4 linked regions of the Homo sapiens genome follow. The protein of the gene in region 4 interacts with the protein of the main gene of each other region in a biochemical or structural test. Each region holds a gene or a part of one and is shown on either strand. Other genes may lie near its edges.

Evidence for each region.
Region 1: the proteins of ARL8B (region 4) and RUFY3 form a complex in vitro, tested with the Homo sapiens proteins (one study listed by BioGRID).
Region 2: the proteins of ARL8B (region 4) and RUFY1 form a complex in vitro, tested with the Homo sapiens proteins (one study listed by BioGRID).
Region 3: the proteins of ARL8B (region 4) and VPS41 form a complex in vitro, tested with the Homo sapiens proteins (one study listed by BioGRID).

What each region holds. Positions count from the first base shown.
Region 1 is NC_000004.12:70,724,708-70,732,020, forward strand, and holds part of RUFY3 (protein RUFY3), read left to right. Parts: intron 1-7,313. UniProt on the Homo sapiens protein: ARL8 effector that promotes the coupling of endolysosomes to dynein-dynactin for retrograde transport along microtubules. Acts by binding both GTP-bound ARL8 and dynein-dynactin.
Region 2 is NC_000005.10:179,553,520-179,560,832, forward strand, and holds part of RUFY1 (RUN and FYVE domain-containing protein 1), read left to right. Parts: intron 1-2,134; exon of another isoform or gene 2,135-2,271; intron 2,272-6,211; exon of another isoform or gene 6,212-6,505; coding exon 6,506-6,679; intron 6,680-7,313. UniProt on the Homo sapiens protein: Activating adapter involved in cargo sorting from early/recycling endosomes. Regulates retrieval of proteins from endosomes to the trans-Golgi network through interaction with the dynein-dynactin complex.
Region 3 is NC_000007.14:38,906,018-38,914,021, reverse strand, and holds the start of VPS41 (vacuolar protein sorting-associated protein 41 homolog), read left to right. Parts: upstream 1-4,830; 5' UTR 4,831-4,847; coding exon 4,848-4,868; intron 4,869-8,004. UniProt on the Homo sapiens protein: Plays a role in vesicle-mediated protein trafficking to lysosomal compartments including the endocytic membrane transport and autophagic pathways. Acts as a component of the HOPS endosomal tethering complex.
Region 4 is NC_000003.12:5,166,979-5,174,291, forward strand, and holds part of ARL8B (ADP-ribosylation factor-like protein 8B), read left to right. Parts: intron 1-3,524; coding exon 3,525-3,605; intron 3,606-5,171; coding exon 5,172-5,245; intron 5,246-5,668; coding exon 5,669-5,762; intron 5,763-7,038; coding exon 7,039-7,106; intron 7,107-7,313. UniProt on the Homo sapiens protein: Small GTPase which cycles between active GTP-bound and inactive GDP-bound states.

The sequences.
Region 1 (7,313 bases), on a different chromosome or scaffold from region 4:
AGAAAGCTATTATTTTAAATTACTAGAAATGAAAATAAAGAAAGCATAGTCCCATGAAAGCCTGTGAGTATTACTGCCTTGCTCCATTACCAAACTCTGGATATTTAAACAGTCATTTGGTCCCAAGAAATACCCACTTTTATGTTAATACCACTGATAGTTATTAGATTTAATTTAGCTATAAGCATTTAAGTGGTGGTCACCAGGCCCATGATTATGTGAATCTCACCTTGTTCACAAAATGGAACTCCTGATGTCTGGACGCGGGAGTATTCAGACTGCTTTCCGGGCTGATTCACAGAGGGAAAAACATCTGACCACCCAAATCCTAGAGTGAAGTCTCCTCACTCCCACAAAAGAAAATAGGCAAACAGCATAATGTTCCCTCTTAAAATGATGTAGACTGACTGTGTGTACTCAGCAATAGAGGCTCTGTGGCTTCCATATTTTATTTTCTTAAAACCAGAGTTCCTGGCCCTTCACTGAGCAGTCCGCAGTATAGGCCTGGACCTAGAGTTTCTGCCTACTTTAACCCTTAAATAAATGAAAATAAAAGCATTCACTTCATTATCTCAATGCTTATTGGTGGTCAATGAGGGATTATCTCTCTTTTGTCTTATATACTCTTTTTTTTTTTTTTGAGACAGAGTTTTGTTCTTATTGCCCAGGCTGGAGTGCAATGGCGCAATCTTGGCTCACTGAAAACTCTGCCTACCGGGTTCAAGCGATTCTCCTGCCTCAGCCTCCCAAATAGCTGGGATTACAGGCATGCGCCACCACACCCAGCTAATTTTTGTATTTTTAGTAGAGACGGGGTTTTTGCATGTTGATCAGGCTGGTCTCGAACTCCCAACCTCAGGTGATACACCCTCCTTGACCTCCCAAAGTGCTGGGATTACAGGTGTGAGCCACCATGCCCGGCTTATATACTCTTATTTTCAAAAGCCAACAGCAAATCTACAACAAGTTTAATTGCAAATAGATTTCCCCTAAAGGCAAGAGCCTGTGATTGACTCCACAGGAGAAGGGTCAGGAGAGGCTTCATTAAGTGAGACCTTAAGAGATAAACAGGTGATCACCAGACCGACATAGGGAGGGCATTTCAAACAGTACACAGTGAGCTGGCCCAGCCAGGGAATAGCAACAGGAGCACAGAGGGCTTCTGTTTGGCACAACAGGGAGCAAGACTGGAAAGATAAGCAGGGGCTTGACTGTAGAAATCTTATTCATACTGAAAAGCCTGCACTTGATTCTGTAGTGAAAAGCTACTGGTGCTTTATGTCTGGGAGTAACATAAAATAAGATTTGTGTTTGGAATGATCACTCTGGCAACAGTGTAGTGAATGGATCAGAAGGATATAAGCTCTCAGGGACCCCTAACTATAACTTTTAAAATGGTCTGGGTAAGAGATGACAATCTCACATTAAGGTAGCAAGAGTGAACACCAAAGGAACAATCCCTGGAAAAGCAGAATGTACCCGATGACTGAGGGGCTGGGTGGCTGGAGAATGAACATAAGGCAGTGCCTGGGATGACTCTCCAACTTCTGGCTGCAGAAGCTAGGTTCCCTTTACCAGTAGGGAATATAGAAGGAAGAGAACATTTGAGTTGTTGATGCTTAATAGATTGTGACTAACAAAAGCACTACCATCACTCTTTTTTTTCTTTTTTTTGAGACAGTTTCGCTCTTATTGCCCAGGCTGGAGTGCAATGGCGCTATCTCAGTTCACTGCAACCTCCACCTCCCAGGTTCAAGCAATTCTCCTTAACTCAGACTCTCCAGACTCCCCAAGTAGCTGGGATTACAGGCATGCGCCACCACGCCCAGCTAATTTTGTATTTTTAGCAGAGACAGGGTTTCTCCATGTTGGTCAGGCTGGTCTCGAACTCCCGACCTCAGGTGATCGCCCGCCTCAGCTTCCCAGAGTGCTGGGATTACAGGCGTGAGCCACCGTGCCCCGCCCATTACTCTTTCAGTTGAGCCTTCTACCCGCCCCACAGAAGCATTAATCAGATTTATACTTTTCCAGATTACATATCCTGGCTTAAGTCTGTACCCTAATTTACATTAAGAGTTGGAATCCTCACATGGAAAGGCGGGGGTGAAGATAAAAGGAGTGAGACTTAAATGGACATTCAGAGATGTGAGAATGTGGCTTACTTTCTTACTTTGCTTGTGCCATGTCAGTGCTAGAGGAGCAGCCTTGTTTATAGAAAATTCATTTTGCATTTTCTTAATTTAGGGAAACATGTACCACCATTGAAATAACCTCTCAGACTTTTGTTTGTTTGTTTGTTTTACTTTGTGAAAGCGTAGTGGGATTTCTTTCCTTTTTTTTTTTTTTTTTTTTAACCGAAGCAATGTTGGAAGTAAGTGGAATTTCAAAGTAAAGGAACTTTTAAAGCACCATGAAAATTTTAGAGAACATGTGTTCTCTGTTTTTTTCAAGAATGGAAGCAGAACGCTTCAGTTAGACCTTTAAGCATCATTATATTAATTTCAGAAATGGTGTTATTACTGAGATGAAGTGGTATATTTTATTTTTGCGATTTTTTTTAAGTCACATGCTCATATGTATCTGAATTTCTTGGAGTAACATTCTCAAAACAAGTTACATATAATTCTAGGATCAGGAAAGTAATAACTTTTTTTTTTTTTTTTTTTGAGACAGAGTCTCACTCTGTTGCCCAGGCTGGAGTGCAGTGGCGAGTTCCCAGCTCGCTGAAACCTCTGCCTCCCAGGTTCAAGCGACTCTCCTGCCTCAGCCTCCCTAGTAACTGGGATTACAGGCAGACGCCACCACGCCTGGGTAATTTTTGTATTTTTAGTAGAGACGGGGTTTCACCATGTTGGCCAGGCTGGTCTTGAACTCCTGACCTCAGGCGATCCACCCACCTTGCCCTCCCAAAGTGCTGGGATTACAAAAAATTAGCTGGGCGTGGTGGCGGGTGCCTGTAATCCCAGCTACTCGGGAGGCTGAGGCAGGAGAATCGCTTGAACCCAGGAGGCAGGGGTTGCGGTGAGCCGAGATCGTGCCACTGCACTCCAGCCTGGGCAACAAGAGAGAAACTCTGTCTCAAAAAAAAAAAAAAAGATTTTTTTAAAGAAATTCACCAATACATGTTATGTATACGCATGTCCACATACGTGAAGGGCAGGGATAGTATTACCTTCAGTATTATTGAGTGTTTAACAACAAAACCAACTATAGCTATGACTCAGTTTATAACACGTTTACCCTTAATAAGTTTACCTAATTAGAAATGTATATGTTAATAAAAATTTTTACACTTTAAAGAGGATTTTTAAAGAATGAAATCCTGACTCATTTGTTGTCTCAAGTGACTACAGATACCCCTTGAATTAAGATGGGGTTATGTCCTGAGAAACTCATCCTAAGTTGAAAATACCATAAAATGAAAATTCACTTAACACACCTACTCTACTGAACTTAATAGCTTAAGTAGCTTAGCCTCTCTTGCCTTAAACATGCTTAGAAGACTTAAATTAGCCAACAGTTGCGCAAAATCATCTGGCAGCACAGTACCCTGTAGCGTATTGGTTGTTTACCCTGATCTGTGGCTGATCGTGTGGCTGACTAGGATGGTGTGGCTGACTGGGAGCTGCGGCTTGCTGCCGCTGCGCAGCATCGTGAGAGAGGATCACCTGGCGTATTGCTAGCTCGGGAAAAAATCAAAATTCAAAATTTGAAGTAGGGTTTCTACTGAACACATATCACTTTCTCATCGTTGTAAAGTTGAAATATCGGAAGTTGAACCCTCATAAGCCAGGGACTGTCTGTGAATTGAAATTAGCCTAAAAGACAGCAGTAGTATCATATTTCAAAAAAGAAAATGTTATTTTGCATATACTGCCTTTACTCTGTAAAGTGTTTCAGACAGATTTTTTTAAAATATAATTTGTGATCTAAGTCCAATTCCTTGTTCTTAAACTAAATGTCCAGCTTTTGGTCTATTTTCTTTTTTCTTCCACATTCCTACTCTCTGTTATCATTTTTCGGATATTTATATGGTTTGAGTGGCAGGCAAGTTAAAAATCGCAATTTAAAATAATTTTTGTGTGCTTTTCAAAGTGAAGCTAAGTTGGATTTTTTTAAATAAGACTTTTTTCCGATTACAAAAGGAAATTTGTTGTGGAGATTTGGATATTTCTTTTTTTTTTTTTTTAAATGAGGCCTTGAGATTTGGAAATTTCTAAGTAGAATTTTGACACAGAATTCAAAATGACTGAAGAAATCTGCTGGATACCTAATGAGTCTCTTTAGAGTTGGGTGGATAAATTAGTCAATGGAAAACTTTATTGCTGTCAATATGGGGTATATTTGAGAACAGTAAAGGAATTAGTACAATAATGGGGTTGATTTGGCAATTCGTGTTTTAGCTACTGTGATGGTCATTAATTTAGAGATAATATAGGATAGTGGTTAAAAGTATGGATTTTGTGGCTTGGACCTGGACCTGGATTCAGTTCCTTACCCAGTACTCAGTAGTCATGTGACGTTGCACAAGTGATCACTTCATGCTTGAGTTTTTTTGTTTTTTTTTGAGACAGAGTCTCACAGTGTCACCTGGACTGGAGTGCAATGGCACGATCTCAGCTCACTGCAACCTCCACCTCCTGAGTTCACACAATTCTCCTGCCTCAGCCTCCTGAGTAGCTGGGATTACAGGCGCATACCACCACACCCAGCTAATTTTTTGTATTTTTAGTAGAGACGAGGTTTCCCCATGTTGGCCAGGCTGGTCTCGAACTCCTGACCTCAAGTGATCTGCCCACCTCTGTCTCCCAAAGTGCTAGGATTATAGATGTGAGCCATCATGCTTGAGTTTTTCTCTCCTCTTAACTGGGAATATTAACGGTAACTACTTCAGAGGTTAGGAGGATTAAATGAGATACTTAATGTAAAGCACCCTATAAATGGTAGCTATTTATATTAGTAGTTATTCATGAAGCAGTAGCTGAAGCCACAGCAGTTTAAGCCGGATTCTTCAATACATTGCCATTTTATTTTATATTTCTATTTTTATATCTATCTTTATAGAGTAGTCTGAACAAGTTATTTATCAGACTAAAGATGAACATTAGTAGTAGCTTAAACTCAAGTTTTAGCATTGTCCTTTCTTGGACCTCTATAAATAAGAAAATAATTGATTAAAAATCCACAAGTTATCAGTTATCCAGGAATATGCATTTTTGTTTCTTTCGTTTTTTTTTTTTTTTTGAGATGGAGTCTCGCTCTTGTCACCCAGGCTGGAACACAGTGGCGCAATCTTGGTTCACTACAACCCCTGCCTCCCCAGTTCAAGCGATTCTCCTGCCTCAGCCTCCCAAATAGCTGGGATTACAGGCACCCACCACCATTTCTGGCTAATTTCTGTATTTTTAGTAGAGACAGGTTTTCACCATGTTGGCCAGGCTAGTCTTGAACTCCTTGAACCTGCCTCGGCCTCCCAAAGTGCTGGGATTACAAGCGTGAGCCACTGCACCCAGCCAAAATATGTGCTTTTCTATTAACCTTCTTTTAGGGATAAGGAGTCTGACATTGAGAGGTGATGCACAGATGATCAGTTGAATGCAATAAAATATACATCTGGCCTGATTAGTTACTTTCCGCTAGGAATTATTTACTCCAAGTGTTAAAAATGTATTCTCTCATTTAATTTTTACAACAACCTTTTGAGCCTAGGTACAACTATTACCCCCAATTTACAAATAAACTGACATTTGGCCAGGCGCGGTGGCTCACACTTGTAATCCCAGCACTTTGGGAGGCTGAGGCGGGTGGATCACCTGAGGTCAGGAGTTCAAGACTAGCCTGGCCAACATGGTGTACTAAAAATACAAAAAAAAAAAAAAAGATTAGCTGGGCGTGGTGGCAGGTGCCTGTAATCCCAACTACTTGGGAGACTGAGGCAGGAGAATCACTTGAACCTGGGAGACAGAGGTTGCAGTGAGCCGAGATTGCACCACCGCACTCACTCCAGCCTGGGCGACAAGAGTGAAACTCCATCTCAAAAATTAAAAAAAGTAAAATAAGCTGACATTCAAGGGTGTAATAACCGGTAGAGGCAGGATTCAAACTCAGACTACCAATGGTTCAACCCATACACAACACTCCTGTCCCAGAATTCTAGAGTGTAAGTCCAACAATAGGCCTGCGTGTAATAAGAGGAGTCTTCTTCCCAGTCTCTGATGACATATTTGCAGAAGTTTTATACACAATTGAACACAGCATTGGCAGCTTAAGTACAGTCAGCATGCAGATAAGGCCAAAAGCATCCCAGCTGGGACATGCTTGGTGATTGCCATCTTTTTTTTTTTTTTTTTGAGACGGAGTCTCGCTCTTGTCCAGGCTGGAGTGCAGCTGCGCGATTTCGGCTCACTGCAACCTCCGCCTCCTGGGTTCAAACAATTCTCCTGCCTTAGGCTCCTGAGTAGCTGGGATTACAGGTGCCCGCCACCATGCCCGGCTAATTTTTGTACTTTAGTAAAGAAGGGGTTTCATCATGTTGGCCTAGGCTTGTCTTGAACTCTTGACCTCAGGTGATCTGTCCACCTTGGCCTCCCAAAGTGCTGGGATTACAGGCGTGAGCCACCAAGCCTGGCCAGTGATTGCCATCTTTTAAAGTGGAGACTGAGTTTTTTGTCCACATGTTTTCTTTTTCCTCTTTTCACTCACTTTTATAAAGTAAATGAAAATATTTACATAATCGTGCATATACTACCAAACAGCAAAAATAGTACACTGCTGAAACTGACCTGGCTGGCAAGTGACACCTCTATATGCTAAATTTAGCTTTCTGAAGCAGATGTACAAAAGCAATAAGAAAAGCAGTTTTGTTTTGTTTTTGTTTTGAGACAGAGTTTCGTTCTGTTGCCCAGTCTGGAGTGCAGTGGCGCAGTCTCGGCTCACTGCAACCTCTGCCTCCCAGGTTCAAGTGATTCTCCTGCCTCAGCCTCCTGAGTAGCTGGGACTATAAATGTGCACCACCATGCCCGGCTAATTTTTGTATTTTTAGTGCAGACAGGGTTTTGCCATGTTGGCCAGGCTGGTCTTGAACTCTTGGGCTCAAGCGATCACCCGCCTCAGCCTCTGAAAGTACTGGGATTACAGGCATGAGCCACCGCACTTAGCCTGAAAAGCAGTTTGTGATAGCAGTAATGTTCACGATTATGGATTGTTTGAAATAGTAGCTACAGGTAATCATTATTCTTTTAGCCAAGCATTCTCATGCCCTTCTTTGGATGATTTTTTCAATGTTTTTTCAAACTCCTTTTCAACATACTTAC
Region 2 (7,313 bases), on a different chromosome or scaffold from region 4:
ACACCTGTAATCCCAGCATTTTGGGAGGCCGAGGCAGGCAGATCACCTGAGGTCAGGAGTTCGAGACCAACCTGGCCAACATGGTGAAACCCTATCTCTACTAAAAAAAAAAGTACAAAAATTAGCCGGGCTTGGTGGTACGCACCTGTAATCCCAGCTACTCAGGAGGCTGAGGCAGGAGAATTGCTTGAACATAAGAGGCGGAGTTTGCAGTGAGCCGAGACCATTCCACTGCAGTCCAGCCTGGGCAACAGAACGAGACTATCTCAAAAAATAATAATTAACTCAATTTAAGGAAAGTATTAATAACTACCACTCAATCTAGCAAAATGGTGACCATGGCTTACAAAGAGATGAAATTTGGGGAACTGCTGGGTAGAGCCATGAGGCTGGTCCCAAAGGTCACCGGGATTTGAAGCCATCAGGTAGGACAGGAGCAGAGGTGGGAAAGGAAATGGGCCAAGGGCGGCTCGCTCTGCAGCGACACAAGAAAAACAGGATGGGAGAAAGACAGTGACACCACTTCAGCCAGGGCCAGGCCCAAGGCTGACTCATTCTCTTTCCCCACTGATCTGCCTACACAAGCAATGAGGACAGGCAGGACTTTCAGAGGGAGCAGTTTAGGAGCAGAGATTGAATGTGAGCAGCACTCTTGCTGGATGATATTTTTTCAATGGTAGAAGCTAAAGGAAATGCTGCGGAATATTTTGAATACTTGTTTTAAAATGTTGTCCCGGTCGGGTGCAGTGGCTCATGCCTGTAATCCCAGCACTTTGGAAGACCGAGGTGGGTGAATCACCTGATGTTGGGAGTTTGAGACCAGCCTGACCAACATGGAGAAACCCCGTCTCTACTAAAAATACAAAATTAGCCAGGCATGGTGGCGTAGGCGTGTAATCCCAGCTATTCAGGAGGCTGAGGCAGGAGAATCTCTTGAACCTGGGGGGTGGAGGTTGCTGTGAGCCAAGATCGCCGCATTGCACTTCAGCTAGGGCAACAAGAGCAAAACTTTGTCTCAAAAAAAAAAAGAAAAGAAAAGTTTTCCCATGTGGGGTCTGGTATGTGATTGTATTGTCCATAGGTGTCCTGTTTGGTTTTGGGGGATTTTTTTTTAAGGTAATAAGCGAACATGATTTTTAAAAATCAAACCATACAAAAGAACATTCGGACAGGCATGGTGGCTCATGCCTGTAATCCCAGCACTTTGGGAGGCCGAGGCGGGCGGATCATTTGAGGTCAGGAGTTTGAGACCAGCCTGGCCAACATGGTGAAACCCCGTCTCCACTAAAAGTACAAAAATTAGATGGGCGTGGTGGCGCACGCCTGTAATCCCAGCTGCTCGGGAGGCTGAGGCAGGAAAATTGCTTGAAACCAGGAGGCAGAAGTTGCAGTGAGCCAAGATCACGCCACTGCACTCCAGCCTGGGTGACGAGCAAAATTCTGTCTCAAAAAAAAAAAAGGACAAATACTAAATCCTCCTTCCCAGAAATTTTCCCCAGTACTATTGTATCTTTGAGAGTTTCCGCACATAGCACATGTGCTTTCCTCTCTCAACACTGGCTGTTTTCACGCAAGCAATAGGATGTACCCACAAGGAATGTATCTTGCTTTTTAGAGTAATGCTTCCTAAAGGATGAGTAACAAACATGCGTGTTTTAAGAATTAACATGCTGGCGGGGTGCAGGTGGCTCATGCCTGTAATCCCAGTACTTTGAAAGGCCAACGAGAGAGGATTGCTTGAGCCCAGGAGTCTGATACTGGCCTGGCAATTTATTTGGCAATTCAGTAGGTGTAGAACTTCACGATATTCTCTGTGTCATGTTGAACTATTATTAATGAAGCTTAGAGATGTGAATAGTTTGGCCAAGGTCACAAAGCCAGTAAAATTGAGAGATAGAACCGCTAAAAGATCGTTCCAGGTTTAATTTTCCATGCCTCTAACTTGAGTGCTAATGGGTACAGGTAACCCCATAGTAGGGGATGCATGAGATGGCAAAACACTGCCAGCAGCACTTCCAGAGACAGCACCACCCAGCGCTGATTGCCTGGAACACTGGTCTTAACATTTTTTGCTCATGTAACCCCCTAAGAAAACTCCCAACTTTTTTTTTTTTTTTTTTTTTTTTTGAGCCGGCGTTTTGCTCGTCACCCAGGCTGGAGTGCAATGGCGTGATCTCGGGTCACGGCAACCTCCGCCTCCCAGGTTCAAGCGATTCTCCTGCCTCAGCCTCCCAAGCAGCTGGGATTACAAGCATGCACCACCACGCCCAGGTAATTTTTTGGATTTTTTTTTTTTTTTAATTGATCATTCTTGGGTGTTTCTCAATTTTTTGGATTTTTAGTAGAGACAGGGTTTCACCATGTTGGCCAGGCTGGTCTCAAACTCCTGACCTCAAGTGACCTGCTCACCTCAAGTGATCTGCCCACCTCGGCCTCCCAAAGTGCTGGGATTACAGGCATGAGACACTGCTCCCAGCCGAAAACTTAACTTTTAAAGTTAACGTATAAGATTATTCATCATATTTTAAAGTTGCTCAGAATTCATTTTCTGGCATAGTGTAAATATTGACTTTTTAAAATAAAACTGTTACATTGTTTTTTGAAATGTATCAAGTGGTATGTAAATACCTTAATGAATTGATAATTACCACCATCCATCTTTAAAATAGCAAGTTATTTAATATTTGAAAATTTTACATTTTCCCTTTTATTCATTGAACTTGGATTTCCATTCCACTTCTGCCATAGAATTAATGTAATAGATTTGTATGTTTTTAAAAGTGTTATTGGTCATCTTATAAGTCTCAGCAAAAAGTATGTAAATAAGTTAAAGTTTAATAAATTTTTATTGTGACTGAAGCTCTAAGTGTATAAAAATTTTTCTTCTGGAGTGAATTATCATTAAGTTTATTAGTAATGCTACATTGGTAACAGGAACATAAATATAATTTTTATAAAGAATTATACATAAATTTTTCTTGAATTGCGTTTTTTTTTTTTGAGAAGGGTCTCACTCTGTTGCCCAGCCTGGAATGCAGTGGCGCAATCTCGGCTCACTGCAACCTCCGCCTCCCGAGTTCAAGTGATCCTCCCACCTCAGCCTCCCCAGTAGCTGGGACTACAGGTGCACGCCAGCACGCCCAGCTAAGTTTTGTATTTTTAGTAGAGACGGGTTTTACCATGTTGGCCAGGCTGATCTCGAACTCCTGACCTCAGGTGATCTGCCTGCCTCAGCCTCCCAAAGTGCTGGGATTACAGGCGTGAGCCACCACGCCCAGCCAATGAATTGCATCTCTAAATGAGATGAATGGTGTTGGTTTTTGTCATTAGCATATATCTGTAGATGAATATATATGATTTACTGCTAAAGCGTGATAGAATTCAGCATCAGTTTTAGTCCTGTTTTTTGTTTGTTTGTTTTAGTAATGTTGGTCATCTTTGAACTCTTTCCAAGTTATATGCCCCAAATCACACTGATCTAAAGCCAAAAATTATTTTTTGTTCCCTTATTTTCATTCAAAGCAAATAATTGAAAATTACCTGACCTGCAACCTAATCATATTAAGAAAATTTCTCAACTGTTGGGAGTTACCAAAACAAAAGTTTTACCAAGACTTATCAAGTGTGAGCCAGGCACGGTGGCTCATGCCTGTAATCCCAGCACTTTGAGAGGCTGAGGCAGGTGGATGGCCTGAGGTCAGGAGTTCGAGACCAGCCTGGCCAACATAGTAAAACCCCGTCTCTACTAAAAATACAAAAAATTACCTGGGCATGGTGGCGGGCACCTGTAATCCCAGCTACTGGGGAGGCTGAGGCAGGAGAATCTCTTGAACCCAGGAGGCGGAGGTTGCAGTGAGCCAAGATCGTGCCATTGCACTCCAGCCTGGACAACAAGAGCAAAACTCCATCTCAAAAGAAAAAAAGACTTATCAAGGGATAATTTCACTTCTTATTCTTTCACTTAGGCACTTTGTTTAACCCAGAATACTCAGAATGGTTGGAGACATCTGAGTATTGCTTATTTCATTCACCTTTGCCAATACAGTACTTTTTGACAAAAATACTTTTAGTTTATCATGTATTTCAAATCCATTTTCATCAAATACTTAGCTGCAGTTTGGGCTCATTTAATTTACGGAAAATGGCCATCAAGCTAATGGCACATCTTAGGGTTGTGAATATTGACTGGTTGAACATAATTACATAGATTTGTAGGGAGAAAAATTTAATTTTCTAAATTTAGGACACCCAAGCAGAGGGTTAGAGACCACCCCTCTGCCCCAAGACCAAGCTTAACTGAATACCATAAAGCAGTAAAAGGCTGGTCTTCATGTTTTTGATTACTTAATCATCAAGGGCGACACCACCTCCATTTGGTGTATGGAACCTAGGGCACCCCAGGTCACCGTATCAAGAGGAAGACAGGTTATGGAGTGAGTTGCCCTTCTTTAGAGGGAGGAGAAAGAGTGCCTGTGAAACTTGAAAATCTGGAAATTGAGTTCCTTAAAACATCTGGGCATACCTAGCTTTGGCAAGACTGCTGTATATGTATTCCAATTTCAAGACCACTAGATGATAGAACTGGGCTTGGTGTCTTCTTTAAAGATAAATCTTTACAAATTGCTTTTATGGTTATTGCTGTCTTCAGAGTTTCTCCCTTCTCTTGATGAAGTTTTACAAGTTTTATTTCCTTTGCCAATCATCCATTACAGTTTTAAAATTTATAAATATAATACATAGGCTTCTCTCGAAATATAAAAATAATTATACTGGCCAGACATGGTGGCTCACGCCTGTAATCCTAGCACTTTGGGATGCCAAGGCGGGCGGATCACCTGAGGTTGGAAGTTCGAGACCAGCCTGACCAAAATGGAGAAACCCCGTCTCTACTAAAAATACAAAATTAGCCAGGCGTGGTGGCGCATGCCTGTAATCCCAGCTACTCGGGAGTCTGAAACAAGAGAATTGCTTGAGCTCAGGAGGCGAAGGTTGCAGTGAGCCGAGATGGCGCCATTGCACTCCAGCTTGGGCAACAAGAGTGAAACAACATCTCAAAAAAAAAAAAAAATTATACCACCCCCAACGAAATGCTTTACTTAAGCCACTTTTAACCCTCTCCACAACCAAGGTGAAATGCTTAGGCTGTTTCTTCTTGCCCAGCAGCTCTCCCCCTACCTTCTTGGGTTTTGCTGAGATAATTTTGAATTTTTAGTCCCAGGATGTCTCAGTATTTATTTAAGACCTTTACTACAAGTTCACGGCCATAATATTATCGTTCAGATTTAACTGTAATTAACTATATAAAAATATAGTACGTATAAATATGCTCTTTAATTGTCCATATTAATCAATGCTGGTGAAATAAAACAGGTAAAGGATTAGTATCCAAAATATACAGGTCAGTAAGACAAAGGCAAGCAATTCAACACGAAAGTCAATTGAGCAAGCAATTCACAGAAGAAATACTAGCAGAGAATAAACAGAAGTTATTTAACCTCAGTAGTAATTGGACAGCTGCAAACCAAAAACAATACGATCCCCCGCCCCCATTCCAATTGGCAAATATTTCCAAGACAATGTAAACGCGCGCGCGCGCCCGGGTGAGGGCCGCGCTTCGCACCTGGGACTTTCCTGCCAGGACTCTTACTTTGGGATCTAAACTTTTAGTTTCTAGGATACCAGCTTACTGGGTTTCAGAGAGCATTTGGCCAGCACGTATAGATATCTGATGATAATTGCACACAGTCTTTATTACACCCTCAAGGCAATGCGACAAGATAATGGGAGTTGAAATGGAACTCTCTGAATTCATTTGACTCCAACGGTTTTCCTTACCAAAAAACAAAGTGTGCGTAAAACCTAAAATTGTCCACTAGTAGCGGACGAAAGATCGGCAACAAGAATTTGAGCCTGGAGCTGAGGGGAAGATGCTTCCCTGCAGGCACCCGGCTGGCACTATCCGGCAAGAGAGAAGGCTGGAAAAGCCTTCTGGGCGGGGTGCGCATCCTCCTCCGTCCGGGACAGAGGGTGCAAAATGGCGCCCACCAGCTCCGTAGGAGAGGCCTTGAGCTGGACTCGCCCAATAGGAATGTTTGGGGGCGGGACGCTTTCCCAGCACGCCCTCTAAGAGCTTGGGGCAGGGCTTCCTGTAGGTAGCGCCCTTCCATTGGTCAAAAATGGAACCGGGGTTGCGGGAGAAGCCAAACGCGGCGAGTCTTGCTAAAGCCGTCGCCGTAGCAACGCGCGGAGCCGTCTGGGAGAGGCCTCTGGAGCAGGAGGCCCAGTGGCTCTTCTGACCCAAGGCCCCGCCGTCCAGGTAGGGGGCTGTGGCCTCTAGGGATCAGGGACTACTTACCTGCGAATCCCGGTTGCCCGCCCGCCAGCACGTCCGTTCCCTAAGCAGACCGCCTGGCCTCCTGCCTGACCCGTCTTCTCACCGTTGCCCGGAGTCTGACCTCCCCACGCTCAGTCCACTAACGAAGCTATCCCTGCTCCTGCCCCACAGCTTCTAAGTGCCAGATGATGGAGGAGCGTGCCAACCTGATGCACATGATGAAACTCAGCATCAAGGTGTTGCTCCAGTCGGCTCTGAGCCTGGGCCGCAGCCTGGATGCGGACCATGCCCCCTTGCAGCAGTTCTTTGTAGTGATGGAGCACTGCCTCAAACATGGGCTGAAAGGTGAGCCTGAGGGGGCGTTTGGGAGCGTGGAAGTTCGGGCTGGGTGTTTGCTCAGCATTTTTTCATCAGCGCCAGACATCCTTCTAGATGCTGAAATGCCAGCAGTGTACAGAACAGGCAAGGTTCCTGTATTCAGAAGCGACGTCCTAGAGCAGCGCTGGCCAATAGAAATAGCATGCAAGCTATATAGGCAATTTTAAAGTTTCTGGTAGCCAGGTTACTTTAAAAGCGTTAGATGAGGCTGGGCGCGGTGGCTCACGCCTGTAATCCCAGCACTTTGGGAGGCCAAGGCGGGCGGATCACGAGGTCAGGATATCGAGACCATCCTGGCTAACACGGTGAAACCCGGTCTCTACTAAAAAAAAAAAATACAAAAAATTAGCTGGGCGTGGTAGCGGGCGCCTGTAGTCCCAGCTACTCGGGAGGCTGAGGCAGGAGAATGGCGTGATCCCGGGAGGCGGAGGTTGCAGTGAGCTGAGATCGCGCCACTGCACTCCAGCTTGGGCAACAGAGCAAGACTCCGTCTCAAAAAAAAAAAAAAAAAAGAAAAAAGAAAAAAAAGTGTTAGATGAGATGCCTTTCTGTGGGGATAAAACTTTTAAAAATTAAGAAAAAAAAGTTAACCTAATTTGCT
Region 3 (8,004 bases), on a different chromosome or scaffold from region 4:
AGGGAAAAGATCAACTTTCCCACAAAAGATGGGTAAAGAGCAAGAGTAGAAAGGACAGAACAAAGTTGAAAATGGCCAGTAAATTTATGAAAAACATCCCCTCATCAGAAATCAAAGACATACAGTTAAAACAAAAATTAAAATATTAATACTATTTTCCCCAAGCTAAATTAATGAAATGTGTAAAAAATGATAATATCTAATGTTTGATGGTAGGAGGGTTTAGAGCTCTCATATATAGCTCACTGTAGAATAAATTGTGAGAGACTGAATATATAAAGGGGCACTGGCCAGACCAGATATTAAAATAGAACTCTGACCCACAGTCTGAAGCAAGCTGCAGCAATTGCCCAGGAAACCAAGCCATTGTCCACAATAGAAAACCCAGGAATCTAGCCTGACAGTCAAAACTGCCATCTCTAGTAACAATCCAGGAACCTTAACTATAACCTCTGAAACAATCAGCCTAAAATGACCAGGACTTTATTGGTAGTTGACAACTTCCTTAATTTTTACTCCCACTTCCAACTAAGAGCAACCAGAGAAAACCAAATATCCACCCCTACCAATCACATAGGTTGCCCCACTTCTGGTTACCCCACCTGCAGCTTTCTCATGCCAGCAGCCTCCAACCAGGGCCTACCTGAAGCCTTCCCTTTTCCTACCTTCCCACTCTTGTGCCTGTGTTTGAGTCTCTGCCACAGCGCAAGTGCTGGTGGCTGACTCCCTTTCTAGAGTAAGCTCTGAATAACTCCTCAATGGCATTTCTCATTTGGATGATCTTTATTCCTGCAGTTGATACCACCTTGCATTATAGCATTTTCCAGAATTATGCACAGGGATGTTAATTAGATGTACTTAAAGTATACAACAAAATAGAATGATTATATACATTACTTTTCATACGATGGAATTATAATGTGAAATCATGTTTTATTAAAATCATGTTTTAGAAGAATATTTTACAAGATTGTTATTGGGAAACAATCTTGAAATATGACTAAGTAAAAAAAAATGACAAAACTTGGTAATATGATCTTTGTTGGACAAGTTTTTAAATAAATACAGAGAGACAGAGAGGGGAAAGGAGGAAGAGAGAGAAAAAAGAGAAGAAAAAAGAAAGGCATATATCCAACAATCATAATCTAAGTGGAGAAATCATGAGTGGTTTTAGAATTTTATTTTATAATTTATTGTATTTTTCCAGTTATCTATTATGAACACATAGTACTTTTGTAATTAGAAAAATGTTATTAAGAAAATCTAATGTGGTTGCTCAGGGAAATTTCCAATAAGCTATATCTTAAAATGACATTTAGAATATTAGAAGGTAACAGGTTTCAGTAGGTACAGTTTTGGAAAAACTAAACTGCAAAATAAGCTGAGGCTGGCCAAATTTGCTAAAGATAACATCAATATTCTTTTAGCTATTTGGTACAGTTAATTAAATAAAGGCTAAGATTGTAGCTTGGAATTAGTAGTGTAATGTGGTGTAAATTTGCTTGTCATTAGCTGTCACACCTGTAGATTGAGAAAGGTAGCAATCTAAGAAGGAATGGAAGCTGAAGATTGGGAAAAGAATCTACAACACATCCCCTAATTAGCAAGGGCATAAGAGTGAATTATTTTAACTTTGTCCACTTTGCCGATTTTTCAAGTTTCCTGAATTTATAAATGCTATTTAATAATGGAAAATATTAAAGCCGTTCATATTGTTTAAGCAATGAAATAATGCTATTGTCACGAATAAAATGGCTATAATTTGAGTTAGTAAACTGTTTCAGACCTACGAAACAAACATATGAGACAGATCCTTGAAACCAGTGAGCCACTCTACAAATATAAGGTCTTAGGTCTGTTTTCTGAAGTCTATTAACAATTTTAGGTCCTATAGACTGAGAATGAGAAGTTGAATCTTACCTTTACCTCCATCTGCATTTTTGTTTTAGTTTTAGTTTTTGTTTTTGTTTTTGTTTTTTGAGACAGAGTCTTGCTCTGTCACCAGGCTGTAGTGTAGTAGTGTGATCTTGGCTCACTGCAACCTCCGCCTCCCGAGTTCAAGCGATTCTCCTGCCTCAGCCTCCCGAGTAGCTGGGATTACAGGCGCACACCACCACGCCTGGCTAATTTTTGTATTTTTAGTAGAGACGGGGTTTCACTATGTTGACCAGGATGGTCTCGATCTCTTGACCTCAGGGGATCCGCCCGCCTTGGCCTCCCAAAGTGCTGGGATTACAGGCGTGAGTCACTGCGCCCAGCCCTTTACCTCCGTATCTTGAAGTTGGGAGAGGGTGGACTGAGCAGGTGATTTGACACAGAATCAGTGACTGTTAGGCTGACTACTCCTCAAACTTGAAAGTATATGCATATGACTGAGGGATACTATTAAAATCCAGATTGTGGTTAAATACATCTCTCAAAGGGCCCCAAATTCTTCATTTTTAACAAGCTCCCAGGTAGTCTTTGGACTACACTTAGAGTAGTTGGAGAATACAAGACCACCTAGATAAGAGAGCCTCAAACTCTCACTTCACATGAGCAAATGGGATTTGGAGGTCACATGTGAATTTCATCCTGTCCACTGTCCCAGCACGAACCTGCTAGTTCATAGTAGGTTTCTTCCTCTAATTCACCTTTCCATACCTGTGTCTCTTCACTTTTCCAGTCTCTCCAAAAGGAAAGAGGCTCATAATACTTTATTGTAATCAAGAGAGTATACTGAATGCGGAACAAACTTGGGGAATTGAGAGTTTCTACGGTTAAATGAGCAGAGGAAAACCTATAAAGTCTGGCTATATCTTTAATAAGACCCATAACACCCTTCTTGAGAAAGAGAATAAACATTCTCATTCCAGAAAAGTAGAAAGGCCAGGAAGGCCCAGAGTGGATGGCCTTCAGCTTTGCTTGCTTGGGCTGCTTGACTTCTCACCAAAATAAAATGGAACCATAAAACAAAAATGACCTTGTGGTTAAGACAGTGGTAATAATCCCTTATTTTCCTTCTTCATCCCAATCTCATCCATTCAGCATAGAAGAGGAGATTGCCCAGTTGGAGAGGCTGTAGTCCTAGAGGTTTATGGGTGGCTGTCACTCATAACAGAAAAGAGAAAATTGGAGTTTGTGAGGAAAGTCAGAAAAGTGGAAGAGCTCATTTTATTTCTCTTTCCCGTGGATACTCGACTGAGGGCTTCCACAGTCTCTTTGGTCTGTATTAAAGTTTTTCTGGGATCTGGAGTTCATCATGAGCAATGTTTGGCCCTGGGCTGCTTTGCAAGAGATTTTAGAAACTCTTGGGTTAGGTTTATACTTGCCCTAGGTTTATACTTAGGGCATTGGGTGCTTGCTTATGGATTTCTTTTTTCTTTTTTCTTTTTTTTCAGATAGGGTCTCACTCTGTTGCCCAGGCTGGAGTGCAGTGGCACCATCAATGCTCACTGCAGCCTTAACCCCCACCTCAGCCTCCTGAGTAGCTGGAACTACAGGCGCACACCATTATGCCCGGCTAATTTTTGGTATTTTTTGTAGAGACAGGGTTTTGCCATGTTGTCCAGGATGGTCTCAAACTCTTGAGCTCATGAAATCTGACTGCCTTGGCCTCCCAAAGTGCTGGGATTACAGGTGAAAGCCACTGCACCTGGCTGCTTATAGACATTTAAATGCCTCAGGGTGGTCTATCCTGTCGGCTGAGTGATTAGCCCACTGGAAGAGGAACCCCAGCAAGGCTTGGAGGAAGAAGATGGAGGTAAGGCTGTTTAGGCCCTGGGGAGAAGACAGGTGTCTCAGAGATGATGTCACCTTGGCTTCTGGGCCATTGAGGAATCATGGGTTGAGCAAGCTACAGACAGAGTACTGAGTCCATGACTTCCTACTGGGTCAGAGTCAATGAGGCACAGGGAGTCAAAAAAGGTACTGAGGCAATCACCACATGCTGCCATTTGCAATGCCCTCTGCTGGTCACCAGCTACTCCAGTGAATGGAAATTGTAAAATGTCTGTCTTTGGACAAGGTGCTGCAGATTCCTGAGGGTTAAGAAACAGAATTCATAATGTTCAGAAACATGGAGAAGGAATCAGTCATTCTGAAGGCTGGAAGTAATACAGTGGTTGTGCAGATTTTGACCAAGGACAACTTCATATTGTGTCTTCACTTGAACATTTACCTATTGAATATCCTCAACAAAAGTTTAACAATTAATTTATTAAACAACAGAGATTTTTTTTAAATCAATGTTCATATGACAGGAGAAGACAAAGTAGCAAGCAAAAATAATGATATTATTTGTTGGCGTATAAATTTTCTCTGACTCTCCACTGCAAAGACTGCTTTATATTCACTGAATATACTTAAAAAAGAGAGAGAAAAAAGGACAAGAACACTTTTAGAGTAAGCAGCATTTGGCAATCACAGAGACTTTGGCATCAGGCAGGGCTGAATTCTATTACTAGTTCTGCCTCTTACTAGCTGCATGACCTCTGAGCTACGGTATTCTCCCCTATAAATGGGGATGATAGTAGGAATTGCTGTGAGGATTAAATGAGATAATTTATGCAAAGCTATAAACCCAGGGCATGACATAGTAAGTGCTTAATAAACACTAGAATAACTAGAGAAACAAGAACAACAATAAAATAAGCTATAGTATTAGCAATGGTTATGTTCACATCCTTCAAAGCAGAATTCCATTGAGTTTGGAGAATTGGCAGCAGAAATGAACCCTAGCAGGTCCGTCCCCTAGAAGAGATTTCCAGGCTCAGATGAAGCTAAAACTACATTTCCCAGAAGGCCCTGGGCCAAGTGTGTGGTTTCCTCTTATTTCCGGGTCTGTCAGGTGACTCTCCCGTGGCGCCATGGCGGAAGCAGAGGAGCAGGTAAAGGGTGCAGGTGGTAGTTGAGGGCACAGGGATATAGAGACTAGGGTGGGCTGTTTGGGGAGGGTGGAGTGGAGTGGGTGGAGGTGCGGAGCTGCTGGAATAGCGCAAGGCAGGTCCGCGGCAGGGCGGGGTGGGATGGCGAAAGTTGGTTTCGGGGAGCAGAGAGGATGCCAGCCCCGGGAGGGCACCTAGGGAAAGCGCTCTGACACACCCCCGCGTTCGGGCTGCCTTTCCTCGGGCCCCATCCCTGTGGCCTTTGCCCAGGGAAATTTTGGCATGAAGGCAGGCCCGGCTACCTCAGGGACTGACTGCCTGTGGGAGGAGGAAGAGAGGCCGGGTGACTGAAATTTAAGTTGCTTTCCACTTGAAGTAGGACAATAAGAACTAGGAGAGAGTAGACGATGAGTTTTGTTTTGTATCTATTGGAGTTAGGTACAGAGCTGGAGCACTGTTGCGGTGCAGCAGGGATTAAATGCATCCGTTCTGGAGCAAAAATGCCTGGGGTCCAAGTGCTGGTTCCTTTTCTTACCCAATGTGCTACTTTGAGCTACTTATTTAACTTTCCAGTGTGAGATGGGGGTAATAATAAGGCCGTCCTCAGAGGGTGGTTTAAGATGGAGAGAGGAGTTTATACACAAAGTTAGAGTACTTAGAACTGTTGGGCTTAGTAAAAATTAAATGGGATTATTTGTTGCTGGTAGTATCCAGTCAACAACTGGCAACGTGGCACTGAAGTTTAGGGTAGAAATTGGTGATGGGAATATGAATTATTTTCATATAGCAGTAGTGGTAATCACACATTTTATGAAATGACGAAGTAAAATAAAAAAGACAAAAAAGAGAAGCAGACCAAAAAAGAGGCTAGAACTTGGGGGAGATAACTTAAGTTTCCATTTCCAGTGTTATTTCAGTTGGATACTGTTTTTCTTCACAAGTTAACAGGGCTGTCAGTTGCAGTCATTGTCTCTAAACAGTGACTTGATGATGGGCTGTTTAGTATCATAAGAGTCATTTACCTAGTTCAATAATTTTTACTATTTTCAACATACTTCATTTGTTTTTACTTCATAGTGAAAATTTGTTCTGTATATATTTTATATATGCCAATAATTGAGACGTTTGACTAGGTAGAAATTTGGTTTGGCTGGTCCTTGTGATAACAAGATAACAAAGTCTCTTATCTAACACTAGAGACTCCTATTTCCATTCTAGCAGTTCAAAGGAAAACACTCATTAAGAACATATCATTTCATGACTGCCATTGCTCCTTTGAATAAGGGTGAGATTGTTTTTCACATTGTGCATCTTTATTTCATGTTGAAATGTTTGTTTTATGGTTTGATTTGAAAGCAAAAAACTGAGTTTCATATGTTCTTAGATATAGTGGAATAGAAATGGAGAGAGTTGCTCCTAGAAAAACCATTGTTTTTTCTTCCATTGAAAAAAACCTATGAAATATTTACCACTGTTTAGTGCAGAAGAAGAATTTAACAAAGTTGTCTGATATAAAAATGACACATACAAAATTAGGGATATAATAATGTTTCACATTTGTACATTATTTTCTAGTTTTAAAAACCCTTCCATATTGCATTTGGTCTTCCCAAAAGAATTCTATGAGGTAAATGTTTACTCTCATACATGGGTGAAACACCTCTGATATTCTAGACTTTCCAGGGGCTTCTAATCTTATTCAGAGGAAAAGCCACAGCCATTACGGTAGCCTGGTTGTCCCACAGGACCTTGACCCAGCTGCCCTTAGCCACCTTTTCTTGACCTCATTTTTCCCACTACTCTCCTTCCCTTCTGTGACTCTGCATCAGCTGTACTGGCTCTCTTAGTCTTCAAAAAGCCAGGCAGGTTCCTATCTCAGGGCCTCTTTGCTCATGCTGTTCCTTTTTGAGGAACCCTGATATTTACAGGCTTCCTCATTTCCTTCATGTCTTTGTCCAAGTGTTCTTTTTCATTGCGACCTTCCCTGACCATGCTTTGAAACCTTCCTGCATTATTTTTCCCTATAATGTGCATCACCGTTTGACATACTGTATTATAAAATTTGTTTTTTTTTTTTTCCCTGTATATTTCTGTGTACCTCTTACCACAGAGCTTGGAACATCCTGACAAGGATTTGTTCACTGCTGTATGTCCAATACCTAGAATATTGCTTGTTACTTAATAAATTTGTGTTAAATGATTGACTTTTACTGATAAACAAATTGAAATTCAGGCAACTTGAGTAACGTGCTCAGGCTTATATCTATAATATAATAAATCTCCAGTCCTCTGTCTCCATAGCTCATGACTTTTCACTAGAATACCCTACCTTTTTAAAATATATGTAAGAACCTAAATCTAAATAGTTTTTTTACTTTATGAAGTAGAATTAGCCCTTTCCATTTTAATGATTTTCCCTCAAGCCACCATTCCACTTTGATGCTTTAACAGCCAATATGTAGTTGGAGTGGGCATTCTCCTCTCCAGTGGTGTCAGTATCTTAAAAAGACTAGTCGTGGACCAGGCACAATGGCCCATACCTGTAATCCCAGCACTTTGGGAGGCCAAGGTGGGGCGATTGTTTGAGCCCAGGAGTTCGAGACGAGCCTGGGCAACATAGCAAAACCCTATCTCTACAAAAATTACAAAAATTAGCCAGGCATGGTGGTGTGTAGTCCCAGCTACTCGGGAGGCTGAGGTGGGAGGATTGCTTGAGTCAAGAGGGTCGGGGCAGCAGTGAGCCATGATCGTGCCACTGCACTTCAGTCTGGGCAACAGAGCAAGACCCTGTTTAAAAAAAAAACGAAAAACAAACAAAAAAAAACCCAGCAGTCTGTTGTAAATGGCTGAAAGACACATTCACAAATTGTTCAGTTCTTTTTTTTAAAAGAAAGTAAGTAATTGTACCTAATCTTATCCTTTATAGATTAAAAATGGTTAGGCTTTTCTCTGATTTGTTTTTGCATTTCACAGTAGGAAGCCATTGAAATCTGATGACGGTAGTAGGGCTTTATTATACCATTTTTTTAAAGCTAAAAGTGTATAAAAATGGAGAAAATAGGGCTGCGTGCGGTGGCTCATGCCTGTAATCCCAGCACTTCGGGAGGCTGAGGCGGGTGGATCACCTGAGGTCAGGAGT
Region 4 (7,313 bases):
TGGAAGTGACTGGAGATACTCTTCCAATTTCCTTTTTCTAGATAAGGAAGCTGAATCCCAAGGTCACATGACTTGCATCTAGTTAGTAAGTAGCATAATTGTTAATAAGATTCCCTGACTTTGAGAATAATCTTCTTTTCACCATCTTATTTTGCTTCAGATTTATTTTGTTCAACCAAGTTCCAGGTACACTGCCTTGCAACTTTGGCTTATAGGAGGGTAAGCATTATGACAGTGACAGCTCCATCTGCCATCACAGAATCACAGCGAGTGCCACGTGTGATCATGGCATTTAAGAAGGCAGGCATGAAAGCATACAGTAGTCCCTCTTATCCATGGTTTTGCTTTCCAGTTTCAGTTACCTATGATCAACCTCTGAAATAATAATGACTCTAAAGCAGAAGAGTACTGTGCCTAATTTATAAATTAAGCTTTATCATAGGTATGTATGTATTGGGAAAAACATAGTGTACATAGGGTTAGGTTCTATCTGTGATGTCAGGCATCCACTGGGGTTCTTGGAACGTATCCCCCAAGGATAAGGAGGGACTACTTACTTTTATTTTTCTACTCTTTCCCCCCCAAGTCAGATTAACTCATAATTATCCAGATCTTAAGAACAATGTGACTTTAGGCAAGTGACTTAAGCTGACTTTGCCTTGTTTTTCTCATCTGAGAAATGAAGATAATGCTACTCATTTCATTGGGTTGTTATAAGGATTAAACTATGCTGATGAATGTTAAGTGCTTAGTATTACGTGTTTGTTAAATTTGTTAAAATAAGTAGAATGATATACTACTAAGTAGTATTTTCTAAACATCTGTTTCCCAAACCTGTAGTCTTAATTAAGCAGCTTCTTGACAGCTCAGACATAAATTCTCAGGTATCTAGTGCCCAGTTGCCAACTGAGTGGTTATAGTTGTTCAACACAAGCTTTGAAAAGTGATGATTAAGATTGGACACTAGGAAAGAAGTAGAAAATACTTCCAGGTCCATAAAGTAATTATTGCACAAAATTCATGCATCAAAGTTAAGCACTTTATTGGCAGAAGAGTTCCAGCATTTTCCTCCTTCATGGCCTATGTTTTTTTTGAGACATGCTCTCACTCTATTGTCTAGGCTGGAGTACAGTGGCACAATCTTGTCTTAAAGTCATATCGTTCTTAAGATCTCAACCTCCACCTCCCAGGCTCAAGCAATCCTCCCACCTCAGCCTCCCTAGTAGCTGGGACTACAGGTGCATATAACCATGCCTGGCTAATTTTTGTATTTGTAGAGAGAAGGTTTTGCCGTGTCACCCAGGCTAGTCTTGAACTCCTGGGCCGCAGCAACCTGCCTGTCTCAGCCTCCCAAAGTGCTGGAATTACAAGCTTGAGCCACTATGCCTGGCCCTAATAACTCTTAGTTTGTTCAACAAATATTTATTGAATATCTTGCTCTACTCAAGAATTTTGGAGTAAAAACTCAAGGACTTGATTAGCTAATTTTCGGTTTTTGCATGTTAGCAGTAGCAGCTGAGTTACAGGAAAGTTGTTAGGGTTGGCCAAGGTAAAGAAAAGAGATAAATGAACCCCTGAGAAAGCTCGGGGGTACCCCAGTATACTGCAGCCCCCTACATTATTTTATTATGAAGTGCTGTAGTTGATGTTCATAATCATAAAACTTTACCTCCAATAGGGAGGGCCCTTGAGTGTTATCTAATTTAGTTTTCTTGTTTTGCAATAGATAAACTGACCCAGAAACATTGAGAACACATTAAATCATGTTCTATAGGTTGTTTGTGGGAAGTTAGCCAAGTGTATATTGCCTTTTAGAAAGCTTTCCATGCAAGCTAGTTGTAAAGTTTGGTACCTAAAAATTTTAGCTACTATTTTTCCTGCCTCTTCATTATGTAAAACACTTAATGATATGAAATAAATGAGCATTATCTCACGTAGATCTCTCCTCAGAGATTAAAGCCTATCACAATAAATATAATTACAATGAAAATATTTAAGAAAAATATAATCACGATTTAGCCATGTGACCTTGGGACTCTACTACCTGTTCTATGAAATGATAATGATAATTGTCCCTCCCTGTATGATGACTAGTTTTTTAAAAATTTTGGTAAAATACATAAAACACAAAGTATCATCTTAGTCATTTTTAAGTGTGCAATTCAGTAGTGTTAAGTACATTCACATTGTGTAACCATCACCACTGTCCACTTCTAGAAATTTGTTATCTTTTCAAACTGAAACTCCATACCCATTAAGCAAATTAATATCTTCTGTCTTTATGAATTTGACTATTTTAGGTACCTCATAAAGTGAAATACAGTGTTTGTGTGTGTGTGTGTGTGTGTGTGTGTGTGTGTGTGTGAGTGTGTGAGACTTCTGGCTCATTTCATTTAGCAAAATGTCTTCATTTCTTTTGAGTGTATATTCAGAAGTTGAATTGCTGGATCATATGATAATTCTATTTTTAGGTTTTTCAGGAACTGCTATACCATTTTTCATAGCAGCTATACCATTTTGCCTTCCTGCCAGCAGTATACAAGAGTTCCTATTTCTCTGCATTCTTTCCAGTGCTTTCTGTTTTTTTTCTTTTCCTCTTAATAGTAGCCATCCTACTGGATGTTAGGTGGTATCTCTTTGTGGGTTTGATTTGCATTTCCCTAATGATTAGTGAGTCGAACGTCTTTTCATGAGTTCATTGGCCATTTATCTTTTATCATGGCTTACTTTTGATATAACTAGTTTAGATAGAATGACTAGATTTTCACATATAATCACATATGTGAAAGTCCTGAGAATTATAATGTCTTATATAAGTGAAAGTAGTGACTATGGCTGTGTTAACATTTTTTCTGAAGTTAATAAAACTCCACTGAACAGTTAAAAGAGGCACAATTCGAGTTCTGTATAGGAAGTTATTTGTACAGTTGGAATTCGTTGTGCTCAAGATTTAAGACAATTTTGGAATACATGTGTATGTGGCTAGCATAAGGCCATAGCAGACAATACTCATGACATTGAGATAAGTAACCAAAAAGAGAACAAAATTGATTACATAAAAGGAAAAACTTCTGTATGACAAAATATTTTATAAGCCTTATTAAAAGACAGACTTGGAAATGCTGTTTAGCAGTGAATTTTAATAGTTACTGTCAGAATAATTTAAATGCTGAAAGTTTTATTTCTGATCTCATCTACTTTGTGGAAATGTACATCTAGGTGAACACATTTAAAAATTTTCGTATGTATTTGTCATATAAAATTCTTTTAGCATAAGGAAATATGTAAAAAATTACATTAGTTTCAAAAATATCTTTTTTAGATGGAAGAATATATCTTTGTTGGGACAAAATAATGCATCTCTTCAAGAATTATGGCCATAAGGAACATGTTCTTAAAGTAGATTGTTACCAATGGTAAAAAAATATTTACTAAAATGGTTACAAATGCAATGTTGATATTAGAAGTTTATGCAGTGTCATTATAAGTGAGTAGCCTAACTTCAAATGTTTTATTTTGTTCAGTCAGGTCAATTCAGTGAAGATATGATACCCACAGTGGGCTTCAACATGAGGAAGGTAACTAAAGGTAACGTCACAATAAAGGTAAGTTATTTCTTGCCGTACGCAATTTAAATTGTTAGCACAGACCCCTAGAAATTTTTCTGTTAAATTTCTGTGTTTTTACTGAAAATTTGCAGTTTTTCAGTAATGAATGTGCATGTTTCAAAAGAATAGGTTTTTTTGTTGTTGTTTTTTTGTTTTTTTTTTGGAAACAGAGTTTTGCTCTTTCACCCAGGCTGGAGTGCAGTGTCGCGATCTCCACTCACTGCAACCTCTACCTCCCGGTTCAAGTGATTCTCCTGCCTCAGCCTCCAAAATAGCTAAGATGACAGGCTTGTGCCACCACACCCAGCTAATTTTTTGTACTTTTAGTAGAGACAGGGTTTCACCATGTTGGTTAGGCTCGTCTCAACTCCTAACCTCAAATGATCTGCCTGCTACGGCCTCCCCAAAGTGCTGGGATTCCAGGCGTGAGCCACCACGCCTGGCCAAGAATAGATTTTTAATCTATTTTGTTTTTCAAAAATCAAATCTATGGCCTGAGCCTTAATGTCCATTTTGCCCAATTATTGTGGTTTACAGAAGCTGTTCACTTTCTCTGTGGCTCATCTAATGAAGTTCCAGATTTAGTCAAGTGCAGGTTTCTTTATGCTTGTTACCAGTGCTTTAGTTAAACCGGAAGCCTCTTGAAGATTAATACTGTGACTTGAGACTTTAATGTAGCCCAGTGTCTAGTGTGATGCCCTACGGAGTAGACACAATAATAAAATGATTATGGATGTGGCTTTCATGTGCATAAAATAATTTTATTTTATTTTATTTTTTTGAGATGGAGTTTCACTCTTGTTGCCCAGGCTTGGAGTGCAATGGTGTGATCTCGGCTCACTGCAACCTCCGACTCCCAGGTTCAAGTGGTTCTCCTGCCTCAGCCTCCCGAGTATATTACAGGCACCTGCCACCACACCTGGCTAATTTTTTGTATTTTTAGTAGAGATGAGGTTTCACTGTGTTGGCCAGGCTGGTCTCGAACTCCTGACCCCAAGTGATCCACCCGCCTCGGCCTCCCAAAGTGCTGGGATTATAGGTGTGAGCCACCATGCCTGACCAAAATAATTTTATACAAGAAAAACACCTATGTGGAAATGTTGGCTACTTATTTACAGGATAATTTCAAAAGGTTAGGCATTAATGTAGAACAAATCAGACGATTAAGACTTAATAGATTCTGAATTGTTGTTTTCTGTCTTGGCATTCAAATCTGGATGGTGCATGGTCCTGTAGCTTTTAAATTGTTATCATAAAGACATATGTTTTCAATAATAGAAGTATATTAGTTAACAGGCAAACTATTGCACATAAACCAAATCTTTGCTTAAGCAAAATTTTAGATGTATTGTAAATGTATTAAATACGGACTTCAAGTTTAGAAGTGGCCCCAAGAATTCCCATATTAAGAGCTTGTTTGAGGTCAAGTCTTTCAGGAGCACTTTGCCTCTAACATTGTAGAAATAAATATATCTTCCCGATCTTTCTTTTTTTCTGTTACTTCCTCTTGCAATCATTTAATTAAAATATCTTTATTAAGAATTGCCTTGTTTTGATTTAAAGATCTGGGACATAGGAGGACAACCCCGATTTCGAAGCATGTGGGAGCGGTATTGCAGAGGAGTCAATGCTATTGTGTAAGTGGTTTTTTTTTGTTTGTTTGCTTTTAAATCAATGTAGGCATCAAAGAAGAAAGTTTATTTTAGTATTTCCAGAGGCTCAATTTTTATCTCAGGCAGTGAAAATCTTTCTTAGCTAATATCCTAGTGTAATTCCCAACATGGGATTTAAAAAAAATTAATCATAGAATAAGATCTTTATGTTTTTTGTTTATGGAGCTAAGAGCTAAGGGGTGTACATGTTTTACTATCATGTATTAGTCTCTAAAAACAGTCTAGTTAAAAAGTATTAAAGGGTGCTGAGCCTTTTCTTATGACATAGTTTATTTTGGTTAATAATTTCAATAATGTAAATCTTACAAAAATTAAAAATCAATAATACTAGTTGTCATCATCAAGGCATACAGAGAAGGTATGTTGAGATCACTTCATTTTTTTAAGTTACATGATAGATGCTGCAGATCGTGAAAAGATAGAAGCTTCCCGAAATGAGCTACATAATCTTCTAGATAAACCACAGTTACAAGGAATTCCAGTAAGTATGGAATACTTGTTATTTTACATTGTAATTATATAATGATATTAATTATGGTAATTATGCAGTGATATTAATTATGTTTGAAATCAGTAACATGTCTTCATTTTTAAAATCTGGAAAACTTGCTTACCATGTATCTGCCATATACTGGGCATTGTGCTAAATATGAATCTCATAACCACGTATCTACTAAACTACTATGCAGCAGGAGCAGTGCGTAGGCCCAGGGATATAGTGATGAATGGAAATCAGTAGAAACATACTCCTTGCCATCATGGACCTTATGGTTTAGTGGGAAAGGTAGATACTCTGAAAACACTTGAATAATGCAGCTTTAAGTGCTAGGAAGAAAGGTGCAAGGGGATATGAGAGTTGTAATTTAGAGGGGAGATGTGATCTAGTTTGAGGGAAGAAGGAGGGATTCACGAGGAAGTAATGGTTGAGCTGAGATCCAAGGGATACATACAAATGTGAGGTATATGACAGTTGGAGGGGAAGAGAGTTCCAGGCAAAGGCCTTTGGGTGGGAGGAAGTGGGAAACTGAGAAGAGGCCAGTCTCTAGAATACATTTAGGAATTTGCATTTGGATTAGGAATGCTCAACCAGTAAGTATATAATGCAAATCCAAAAAATTTCCAAAATTCGAAACACTTCTGGTCCCAGGTATTTTGGATAAGGGATAGTAAACCTGTACTAAGAATAGCAGAATGCCGCCGGGCGCGGTGGCTCATGCCTGTAATCCCAGCACTTTGGGAGGCCGAGATGGGCGGATCACCAGGTCAGGAGATCGAGACCATCCTGGCTAACGCGGTGAAACCCCGTCTCTACTACAAAAAATCAGCTGGGCGTGGTGGTGGGCGCCTGTAGTCCCAGCTACGGCAGGAGAATGGCGTGAACCCGGGAGGCAGAGCTTGCAGTGAGCCCAGTGGCTGCTGCACTCCAGCCTGGGTGACAGAGCGAGACTCTGTCTCAAACAAACAAACAAACAAACAAACAAACAAAAAGAATAGCAGAATGTGTATCATAGACTCAGACTATTTTACATAGCAGTTGGCAGCCACATACTGAATTAAGAGCACCTGCATGGTGGGAGTTGAGTGAATACAAGTGTGAGCAATGAAATGAATGAGACAAGCCACCAGTTACACAAATAGGCCTTAACATTGTGGAATGTGTTAACATCTTAACTTTGTGTCTTCACATATCAAGATGATAAACTTCTGTGACTTTTTCTTGCATAAACGTGTGCTCTTAATATCTTTTCTTTTTAAAGGTGCTAGTGCTTGGAAACAAGAGAGATCTTCCTAATGCCTTGGATGAGAAACAGCTAATTGAAAAAATGTATGTCTTGAATATGCTATTTTAATAATTTGCTTCTAAATTACCATATTTTGCCCACTTGTTATGTTATTCCTAATGATCATAGCCATTTTTTTTAGGTAGATAAAAGTTGGCCTATCAGAGAAGTGAATCCTAACATTTTAGGATTGCTACGATGATTTCTTCAGTATAGTAATAAAACTAATGAGTAAAATTGAACAAAGTGAT